Linked DNA regions of Homo sapiens: region 2 is linked to region 1. The links come from fine-mapping of genetic effects on gene expression. A gene starts in region 1. The other region holds a variant in brackets. All regions are shown on one strand. Distances are from middle to middle.

The links. PIP is the estimated chance that this variant, and not a neighbour inherited with it, causes the effect. A credible set is the group of variants that fine-mapping cannot tell apart.
Region 2: its variant is the best candidate, but not a certain one, in a credible set for the expression of TLR8 in blood mononuclear cells (TOPMed, PIP 0.87).

Annotation. Positions count from the first base shown.
Region 1 is chrX:12,903,849-12,909,230 of GRCh38, reverse strand. TLR8 (toll like receptor 8) reads right to left here and starts at 2,611. Exons shown (of 2, transcript NM_138636.5): 1 at 2,522-2,611. The coding sequence starts at 2,524. It overlaps TLR8-AS1 (TLR8 antisense RNA 1), which reads left to right. Exons shown (of 5, transcript NR_030727.1): 3 at 898-1,015; 4 at 2,980-3,041; 5 at 5,246-5,382.
Region 2 is chrX:12,939,605-12,944,986 of GRCh38, reverse strand. TLR8-AS1 (TLR8 antisense RNA 1) reads left to right here and starts at 1,687. Exons shown (of 5, transcript NR_030727.1): 1 at 1,687-1,809; 2 at 2,653-2,769. The variant G/A (reference allele first, on the strand shown) is at 2,854.

The sequences.
Region 1 (5,382 bases):
GCCATATGCAGCCCGCAGGCCGAGGGTTGGACAGGCTTGTCCTATGGTCTTGAGTAGTCCTAAATTGGGGCTACTAATTTAAAAATAACAAATCCCTCAACCCCATTTAATAACCCAGATGAACTCAGAGATGTTGCATTGGAATGACGTTCCCCTCAATGGAACCTGGAGGCGACACTATGATGCACTTACAAATAATGTCCAACTGCGTTTCAAAGACTAACTGTGGGTAATGACATCCTTCCCTGTGAAACACACCCTAATATTCTGTGAGTCTGGGGTCTTCCATAAGACTGCTTTCTCTTTCATAATCTCTGAGATTCTTAGATTATTATAATGAAAGGATGAGAAGCAGTGATTGAAAGAGGAGAATGAACTCCATCAACTGCCCTCACTCTTATCTGCAGTCTCAGCTTTTCAGAGAAAGCATACTTAGAACTTCTATTTTGCTTTCTAAAATCAAACCAAGGTGGCTGGTAAATACATTTCAGCTCTTCCTGGAGCATTTCTAGCCACCTAAAAAAACGGACTGTGCTTTTTAACAAAAGGACCAAAAAACTGTTGATGTTCTAAGGCACTGATTCTTAACTTTGGCTGCACAGTAGAGATACTTAGGAACTCTAAAAGCTACAAATGCCAAGCCCTGTATCCAGAGATTTTGGTTTCATTGATCTGGGGTTCAGTCTGGGCAGCAGGAGTTTTGAAAGCTCCCCCTCTGATTTGAGTCCATTGCGAAGGCTAACAACCTCTGCCTTTAGGCAGGAGGTCAGCCAGGTCCTTGACCTCCATTGGCCACCAGTGGGAGCAAAGTGGCCATTTTTTGCAAGTTTAATTTGATTTTATTATTACTCTATTTACCAATCTGTTGTTGTTGTTGTTGTTGTTGTTTTGAAACAGAGTCTTACTCCGTTGCCCAGGCTGGAGTACAATGGTGCGATCTTTGCTCACTGCAACATCCACCTCATGGGCTCAAGCGATTCTCCTGCCTCAGCCTCCTGAGTAGCTGGGACTACAGGTGCGTACCACCACACCTGGCTAATTTTTGTATTTTTAGTAGAGACGAGGTTTTGCCGTGTTGACCGGGCTGGTCTCTACCTACTGACCTCAAGTGATCCGCCCACGTCGGCTTCCCAAAGTGCTGGGATTATAGGCGTGAGCCACCGGGCCCCGGCTATTTACCACATTCTTACAGTACAATTATACTGGCTATCACAGCAGCTTACAAATATCAAGTAGGAATTGGATAATTTCAACTGCAATCCCATATGTGTCATTGGCCCAGTTGACCGAATTCCATATGGGCCACCTACAGTCATTTTGTAAAGCATTGTAAAATTTTAGTGCAGAATTAATTTACCTTCAAGATCCATAATGAACATTAGGTGGGTATAAAAATTAACTTCAGGCCGGGCGCGGTGGCTCATGCCTGTAATCCCAGCACTTTGGGAGGCTGAGACAGGCGGATCACCTGAGGTCAGGAGTTCGAGACCAGCCTGGCCAACATGGAGAAACCCCGTCTCTACTAAAAATACAAAAATTAGCCAGGCGTGGTGGCACACACCTGTAGTCCCAGCTACTTGGGAGGTTGAGGCAGGAGAATCGCTTGAACCCGGGAGGCGGAGGTTGCAGTGAGCTGAGATCACGCCACTGCACTCCAACCTGGGTGGCAGACCCATTAACTTCAAAAGACTTAAGTGTACTTTAAATTGTTGTCAAAATTAACTCCAAGGACTTTGGGGAAAAATATATAGTACATTTTGGATGAGACTCTCTTGAAATCAGACTTTTCAATTGCTCTTAAACCTCATTGAATTTTCTAGAAAATGTATCATTTAAAAAGAAGTGTAAAGTTCATTTTTAGTCTGACAGTTCTTGACAATAACAAAAACGGACCACCTGCTATGTCTTGACAGTGTAAAATAATAATTACAGAAATTGTAGCATGTTATTAGGTTGGTGGAAAAGTAATCACAGTTTTTTGTACCAACCTAATTATTTAAAACTCTGACCAAGAAAAGTAGCAATTAATGTCGAACTTTAAGCCTCCAACAGTAGGTTAAGCTCAGGCTTCACTAGGATCTAGCAATTGACCTATGTATGTGAAGGAAGAGAGTTTGTCCTTTTCTACAGAAATAGCAAAGGAAGAATATTTCCCTCACCTTCTCTTCCAACCCTGTTGTTCTGGAAGAGGATATTGTCTCTGGTAGGGCCAGTAAGTAATATTTCCAGTTCAATTTCTAACTTGAAATTTTCTTATTTTCCTGTCCAAATTAGTAAGATCATCACTGCATTTGATTTTCAAAATTTACTCTCTAATTCCTTTATACTAACGTGTGCACAAATTAAAGATCATAGCAAGCCGCTTTACCTGCATTTACAGTTGTTTCGATCTTTAATTTTTATCCTTATTTGCCCATTTATTACTTTCTAGGCTCACACCATTTGCCACCAACCCAGATTTCTGGGTCAGAAACCCCATATTCTGTTGGAAAGCTTTGCTAAAGAAATAGAAGTGGCTTACCATGTTTCTGTTGTTCTAATTTTTCATTCCGTAACTTGCAGCAGCGCAGAATGGTACCCTCTATGCAGGAGGTGGCCGAGAAGAGAAACTGGCTAACTTCCTGAAATGGCTCTATTTACCATCAGCAGAACGTAGCGTGTGTTTTACAGAAGTTTACATGAAAAGAAGGGAACTTGTGATTTCTTAGCTGTTGCCAAATCATTAATTGACTGTGCTTTAAAACTTTGAAACTGAAGTTATGGGAAAAAGTCATTTATGAAATGATTTAAATACAACCCAAATCAGACACACACGACGTATTTTTGTTAGTTTTTGTGTATTTGTGTGTACAGGGGAGAAAAAGGGAACATTATTCCATTCACTAAGAAAACTTCAGTGTATTCTTTTTTAAAAAAGTTACCATAAATTTGTACTGAACTTCGGATTTCTCAAACTCGTCTTCCTTGTGTAATTCACAGATGTAGGCGAATAACATGAACATTGCTTCATCTTTGTTCCACAAGTTTCTGAGACAGCACCGGTAGGTATGGGTCTCCCTCCCACTGGGCTGTGGCCGCAAAGCGAGCATCTTTCTCCTGGGCGCCCCATGCCTCCTCCAGCACCTGGCATGTAGTATAAGCTCAATGAGTGTTCATTGTATGAACGAGTGAGTCAATGGCTGAGCATTCGTGAGGCTGGAAAATTTAATCTTCCCGATTTAGTCTGATAAATGGATTCCATTTTATGCTCGGAGAGCAAGGGCCTCAAAAGGTGTAACCAAGAGCAGAGGTCAGCAAACTGCAGCCTTTGAACGAAATCCGGCCCAGAAGTGAAAACATTTTTAGATGAACATTGGCAATGGATTTGCTGATACAGAACACTAACTTTAAATTCCAACCAAGCAGAATGTTAGCACCTCCAAAAATGATTCCATTCTTCTCATTATTAAACCTATACTACAAAAAAACTGCCTTCGATTATTATTATTACATTTTGAGTTTCATCAATTACATAATTGTGGAAATTTTTATTTTACTATATAAGTAGCTACATAATATGCCAAATTTGCTTCTTGGCCTGTAAAACCTAAGATATTTGCCATCTGGCCCTTTACAGAAAAAGTTTGCTGACCCCTGGCCACAAGAATAAAGTTTAGAACGGGATGTGATATGTTTCATCTTGCCTTACACCCCAGGAGTGGGAGAAAACCAAATTGGCAGCAGGGTGGGCAGAGATGACATCCATATATAAATGGACTGTGGAACACCTTGTTATGAAGGAAGGCCTGTCAGCAGTCAAAGAATGGCTTGGGTGGGTATACCTAGATGGACCTCTAAAGATCACACCCTAAGGGAATTCAAGACCTGGTGCATGGTTTGAGAGGTGATTCCTGTGACATCAGAGAGTGCAGCCTGGGCCTTCATGGGCAAACCAAAAACATTTGTGATTGTAAACCCAAAGGCCTCGGCTGGCCGCATCCAAGTCTCTTGGTTTCCCTCCAAACATTTGCTTGGAAATAAAGTAAAGAAAGTAAGTAAGAATGGATCGAGTGCAGTGGCTCACACCTGTAATTCCAGCACTTTGTAGAGGCCGAGGCAGGAGGATCACTTGTGCTCAGGGGTTTGAGACCAACCCGGGCAACATGGCAAAACCTTGTCTCTAAAAAAATACAAAAATTAGCCAGGCATGGTGGTGTGCACCTGTAGTCCCAGTTACTCGGGTGGCTGAGGTGGGAGGATCGCTTGAGCCCAGGAGGTGGAGATTGCAGTGAGCCATGATAGTGCCACTGCACTCTAGCCTGGGTGACAGAATGAGACTTTGTCTAAAAAAACAAACAAACAAACAAACAAAAAACAGCGAAGTAAAAATGACTTCCAGCCGTTGACTGAGCAAGGATCCTTGGAACTGGAGAGTTTGTCAGCTTTCTAGAAAAGCGAGACTCACATACCCTGGCTTCTAGGCCACCAAGTGTCAGCCAATTGTAGACCAGTCAATTGGCCTTGTAAAGCATGCTTGTATACGTATATATATATATGTGTGTGTGTGTGTGTGTGTGTGTGTGTGTGTATCATCATGTATATATGATATATATATATTTTTTATGTACATATGCATGTTTATATGTATATATACACACATACAGTCTAGTATCTATGTCAAGCAAACTCATAAAAATGAGTTACTTACTTATACCAAATGAGCCTTCAGTTTTCTCCACACAACCAGTACCATAAAAGATGAAAATGAAAATGGAATTGACACCAGGGCAGGAAGGTTACTGAGAGGAAGAAGCTCCATCTGCTTGTAAAGTAGCCAGATGATTGGCTTCTGCCCAAGCCCAGAAACTGGTCCTTGGTGGCCAGGTCTGCTCTCCCCACCCTGCACTGTGAGGCCAAAAGCTCCTGGGCATCTCCTAGACCAATCTTTCCTTACTCTTCCCCTTGCCATCCATGCTGACACAGATCTTGATTCCAAAATGGAGAAGACCTGTCATGAACCGCTTCTGCCAGGCAAGCCTGCCAGACAACGTGCACTTCCCAGACACACAAATCACCAGCAGACAAGCCTCTCTGAGCCTTAGTTTTCTCATCTGTCAAATTGGGATAAGAATAGTAGTATCTTTCTCAGATGTTGGCTTTGAGGATTAAATTGTTCATATCGTGGAACTCTTAGAAAAGTAGCTGGCACAAAGTGAGCGTTCAACTAGCAGAGCTGGAATTATTATTACTACGCTTGTTGTTACAGACTTCACACATTCCTGGGCTGTTGCCAACAGTAGGCCTGAAGAACCACTCTTGGGGCCTTCCCCAGCCCTGGACACAGCCCTTTCCTCTCGAGTGGATGACCAGACAATTCATAAGGCAGCAAATGGCTTCCCCATA
Region 2 (5,382 bases), 36 kb before region 1:
GGGAACCTAGAGTGGGAGAGATTAAGCTGAAGGAAGTTTTTGTGGTAAGGGGTGATATTGTGGGGTTGTTAGAAGAAACATTTGTCATTTAGAATTATTGGTGATGGCCTGGATACAGTTTTGTATGAATTGAAAAACTAAACGGAATAAGAGAAGGAGAAAACAGGTATTAAAGGACTAAGAATTGGGAGGACCTAGGACATCTAATTAGAGAGTGCCTAAGGAGGTTCAGCATAGCCTTGCCAGTAAAGATTATTTATTTACTTCAAGAGTTTAGAGTGGCAGTTTGGGGATAGCACCAGGAGATATCAGCTGTGATGTCTTGGAGAAACAGTGTAAACCGGCAGTGTAAACAAGAGCAGGGCATGTATGAGTAGTTGAGAACGGTGAATAGGAGTATGACTAGACAGAAGATAGTAGGGATGACAAGTTTTTTGGGGCACAGTCTAAGTTGGTCTGGTGTCTGGAATGAGACTGGGGCCTAATAAAAAGGAGCGTCTATACAGGAGCTCAAATGGGCTGTACCCTGTAGCATTCTGAGCACAGGTCTGACTTCTGAGAAGGAAAAGTGGTAAAAGTATTGTCCAGTCCTTTTTAAGCTGGTGGCTGAGCTTGGTGAGGTGTGTTTTTAAAAGACCTTTAGTCCGTTCTACTTTTCCTGAAGACGGAGGACCGTAAGGGACATAAAGGTTTCCTTGAATACTAAGAGCCTGAAAAACTGCTTGGCTGATTTGACTAATAAAGGCTGGTCTGTTATCAGACTGTATAGAGGTGGGAAGGCTAAACTGAGGAATTATGTCTGACAGAAGGGAAGAAATGACTGCGGTGGCCTTCTCAGACCCTGTAGGAAAGGCCTGTACCTATCCAGTGAAAGTGTCTACCTAGACTAAGAGGTATTTTAGTTATCTGACTCGGGGCATGTTGAGTAAAGCTAATTTGCCAGTCCTGGGTGGGGGCAAATCCTCGAGCTTAATGTGTAGGGAAGGGAGGGGGCCTGAATAATCCCTGAGGAGTAGTAGAATAGCAGACGGAACACTGAGAAGTTATTTCCTTGATGATAGATTTCCACAATGGAAAGAAAATGAGGAGAGATTCTAAGAGGCAGGCTAGTGGCTTGTACTATAGCATAGCCTGCCTTTGCTGGTGTGTGGCGATTAGGCCTGGTGGAACTGCCATCAATAAATCAAGCGTGATCGGGGGAGGAACAGGAAAGAAGGAAATATGGGGAAATGGGGTGAATGTCAGGTGGATCAGAGAGATACAGTCATGGGGGTCAGGTGTGGTATCAGGAATAATGTGGGAGGCCGGATTGAAGTCTGGGCCAGGAACAATGGTAATTGTGGGACTTAACAAAGAGTGAGTACAGCTGAAGGAGCCGGGGAGCAGAAAGTATATGCATCAGGTATGAGGAAGAAAATAGATTTTGGAAGTTATGAGAAATGTAGAGAGTGAGTTGAGCATAGTTTGATTTTTAGGACCTCTAAAAGTATTAAAGCAGCGGCAGCCGCTGCCCACAGACATGAGGGCTAGGCTAAAACAGTAAGGTCAAGTTGTCTGGACAGAAAGGCTACAGGGTGCGGTCCTGGCTCTTGTGTAAGAATTCTGACCACACTAACCATGCCTAGGAAGGAAAGGAGTTGTTGTTTTGTAAGGGATTGAGGTTTGGGAGATTAATCGGACACGATCAGCAGGGAGAGCACGTGTGTTTTTATGAAAATTATGCCAAGATAGGTAACAGACGAGGATGAAATTTGGGCTTGACTGAAGTAATGGGGGCTGCCTGTGAAGCCTTGCGGCAGTACAGCCCAGGTAATTTCCTGAGCCTAATGGGTGTCAGGGTCAGTCTAAGCGAAAGCGAAGAGAGGCTGGGATGAAGGGTACAAAGGAATAGTAAAGAAAGCACGTTTGAGATCCAGAACAGAATAATGGGTTGTAGAGGGAGGCATTGAGGAGAGTATATAGGTTTGGCACCACGGGGTGGATAGGCAAAACAATTTGGTTGATAAGGCGCAGATTCTGAACTAACCTGTAAGCCTTGTCTGGTTTTAGGACAGGTAAAATGGGGGAATGGTAAGGAGCGTTTATAGGCTTTAAAAGGCCATGCTGTAGCAGGCGAGTGATAACAGGCTTTAGTCCTTTCAAAGCATGCTGTGGGATGGGATATTGGCATTGAGCGGGGTAAGAGTGATGAGGTTTTAATGGGATGGTAAGGGGTGCATGATCGGTCGCTAAGGAGGGAGTAGAGGTGTCTTATACTTGTGGGTTAAGGTGGGGAGATACAAGGGGAGGATGTGAAGGAGGCTTTGAGCTAGGGGAAAAGGTGGCAATGAGGTGTGGCTGTAGCCCAGGAATAGTCAGGGAAGCAGATAATTTAGTTAAAGTGTCTCGGCCTAATAAGGGAACTGGGCAGGTGGGGATAACTAAAAAGGAGTGCTTAAAAGAGTATTGTCTAAGTTGGCACCAGAGTTGGGGAGTTTTAAGAGGTTTAGAAGCCTGGCCGTCAATACCCACAACAGTTATGGAGGCAAGGGAAACAGGCCCTTGAAAATAAGGTAATGTGGAGTGGGTAGCCTCCGTATTGATTAAGAAGGGGACGGACTTACCCTCCACTGTGAGAGTTACCTAAAGCTTGGCATCTGTGATGGTCTACAGGGCTTCTGAGGCAATCAGGCAGCGTCAGTCTTCAGCCGCTAAGCCGAGAAGATCTGGGAAGGAGTCAGTCAGAGAGCCTTGGGCCAGAGTTCCAGGGTCTCTGGGAGTGGCTGCCAGGTGAGTTGAACAGTCCGATTTCCATCCAATTTCCAGTGGGGTCCCGCACAGATGGGACACGGCTTAGGAGGAATCCTGGGTTGC[G/A]GGCATTCCTTGGCCTGGTGGCCAGATTTCTGGCACTTGTAGCAAGCTCCTGGGGGAGGCGGTTCTGGAGGAATGCCTGGCTACTGCGGTTTAGTCGTTTGGAAGTTCTTGTGTGCTGGAGATGTGGCTGGGGTTTGTCTCACAGTGGAGGCAAGGAATTGCAACTCAGAAATATGTTGCTACTTGGCTGTCTCTATTATTGTACACCTTGAAGGCGAGGTTAATTAAGTCCTGTTGTGGGGTTTGAGGGCCGGAATTTAATTTTTGGAGTTTTATTTAATGTCAGGAGCGGATTGGGTAATAACATGTATATTGAGAATAAGACGGCCTTTTGACCTTTTAGGGTCTAGGGCTGTAAAGCGTCTCAGGGTTGTTGCCGAACGAGCCATGAACTGGGCTGGGTTTTTCATATTTGATGAAAGAGCCTAAATGCTCACTGATTTGGGAGACATCTGATAAAGAAAAAGGAGCATTAACCTTGACTATGCCTTTAGCTTCAGCCACCTTTTTAAGAGGAAATTGCTGGGCAGGTCGGGGAGGGCCACTCACGGAATGAAACTGTAAACCAGACCGGGTGTGAGGAGGGGAGGTGATAAAAAGATTATAGGGTGGAGGAGCGGAGGCTGAGGAAGAATTGGGACCTAGCTCGGCCTGGCAAGGAGCAGCCTGGGGAGGAGGGGAGAGGTCAGATGGGTCTGTAGAAAAGGAAGATTAGAAAGACTCAGCAACACTTGGGGTTGGGACTGAGGGGACAGGCGGGAGGGAAAGAAGGAAGATTTGGGACAAGTTGCACTGGGCACAGAGACTAGGGAGAGACCAATGTGTAAAACAATGCTTGGAAGTCAGGCACCTCAGACCATTTGCCCATTTTATGACAAGAATTATTTAGATCTTGTAGAATGGAAAAATTGAAAGTGCCATTTTCTGGCTATTTGGAACCACTGTCAAGTTTGTATTGGGGTCAAGCGGCATTGCAGAAGAAAATAAGGCATTTAGGTTTTAGGTCAGGTGTGAGTTGAAGAGGTTTTAAGTTCTTGAGAGCACAGGCTAAGGGAGACGGAGGAATGGAGGGTGGAAGGTTGCCTATAGTGAAGGAGGCAAGCCCAGAGAAAAGAGAGAGTAGAGACATGGAGGGAAGGGGTTCGAGGGTTCTTAACCTCCAGAAAAGCGGGAAAGGGGTCGGGGCACGGAAATAAGGGGTTGAGGTGCAGAGATGAGAGGTCGGGGCACGGAAATAAGGGATTGGGGATTCTTGCCCCCTAGAAAAGCGGGACTTGCCACTAAGGGTGAAGGAGAAGGGGTTGAGGGGTTCTGGCCCCTCCCCCAGAAAAGTGGAGAAGGGGTAGAGACACGGAGAGAAGGGGTTGGGGTACTTGCCCCTCCCACAGAAAAGCGGAACTTGCCGCTAAGCATGAATGACCAAGGCAGGCATCCCTGGGTGGTCTGACACCGCTGAAACGTGGGTGAATAATCAGAGAGGCATCCCTGCAATGATTAAACACCAAGGGAAGGCTGCCTTCCCAGTCCGTGACCGGCACCAGAGTTTTGGGTCCATGGATAAAGCATGTCTCCTTTGTCTCTACCAGAAAATGAAAGGAATTGAAATTAAGAGAAGGGAGAGATTGAAGTGTGGCGCCAAGATTGAAAGGAGAAAGAGGTTGAGGGATAGTGAGGGAGGTTGGAGAAGAGAGTAAAAAGAGGCCGCTTACCAGATTTGAAATTAGTGAGATGTTTCTTGGGCTGGTCGGTCTGAGGACCTGAGGTCGTAGGTGCATCTTTCTCACAGAGCAGAGAGCAGGAGGACAGGGGATTGATCTCCCAAGGGAGGTCCCCCGATCCAAGTCACGGCACCAAATTTCATGCGTGTCCCTGTGAAGAGACCACCAAACAGGCTTTGTGTGAGCAACAAGGCTGTTTATTTCACCTGGGTGCAGGTGGGCTGAGTCCAAAAAGAGAGTCAGCGAAGGGAGATAAGGGTGGGGCCGTTTTATAGGATTTGGGTAGATAAAGGAAAATTACAGTCAAAGGGAATTGTTCTCTGGCGGGCAGGAGTGGGGGGTCACAAGGTACTCAGTGGGGGAGCTTTTGAGCCAGGATGAGCCAGGAGAAGGAATTTCACAAGACAATGTCATCAGTTAAGGCACGAACAGGCCATTTTCACTTCTTTTGTGGTGGAATGTCATCAGTTAAGGCAGGAACCAGCCATCTGGATGTGTACGTGCAGATCACAGGGGATATGATGGCTTAGCTTGAGCTCAGAGGCCTGACAATTGGGTTTGACCAACTCTATCCAACTTGATCAAATCTGAAGGAAAGTTCCACATTACGGGGAACAAGACCTCTGAATTGGCTAAATTCCACAGCTGGAAAAAAAAAAAAAAAAAGCAGGGAGAAGGAAAAACAGTCCAGCAAAAGGGGATAAAAGAGAAAGGTTCTTGATTTTGACTACCCTGAGGGCTTTATTTACATAATAAGGCCAGTTTTTGTTAGCCAAGCCAAACTGAAAGAGTAATGGCTGTCGCCCCATGC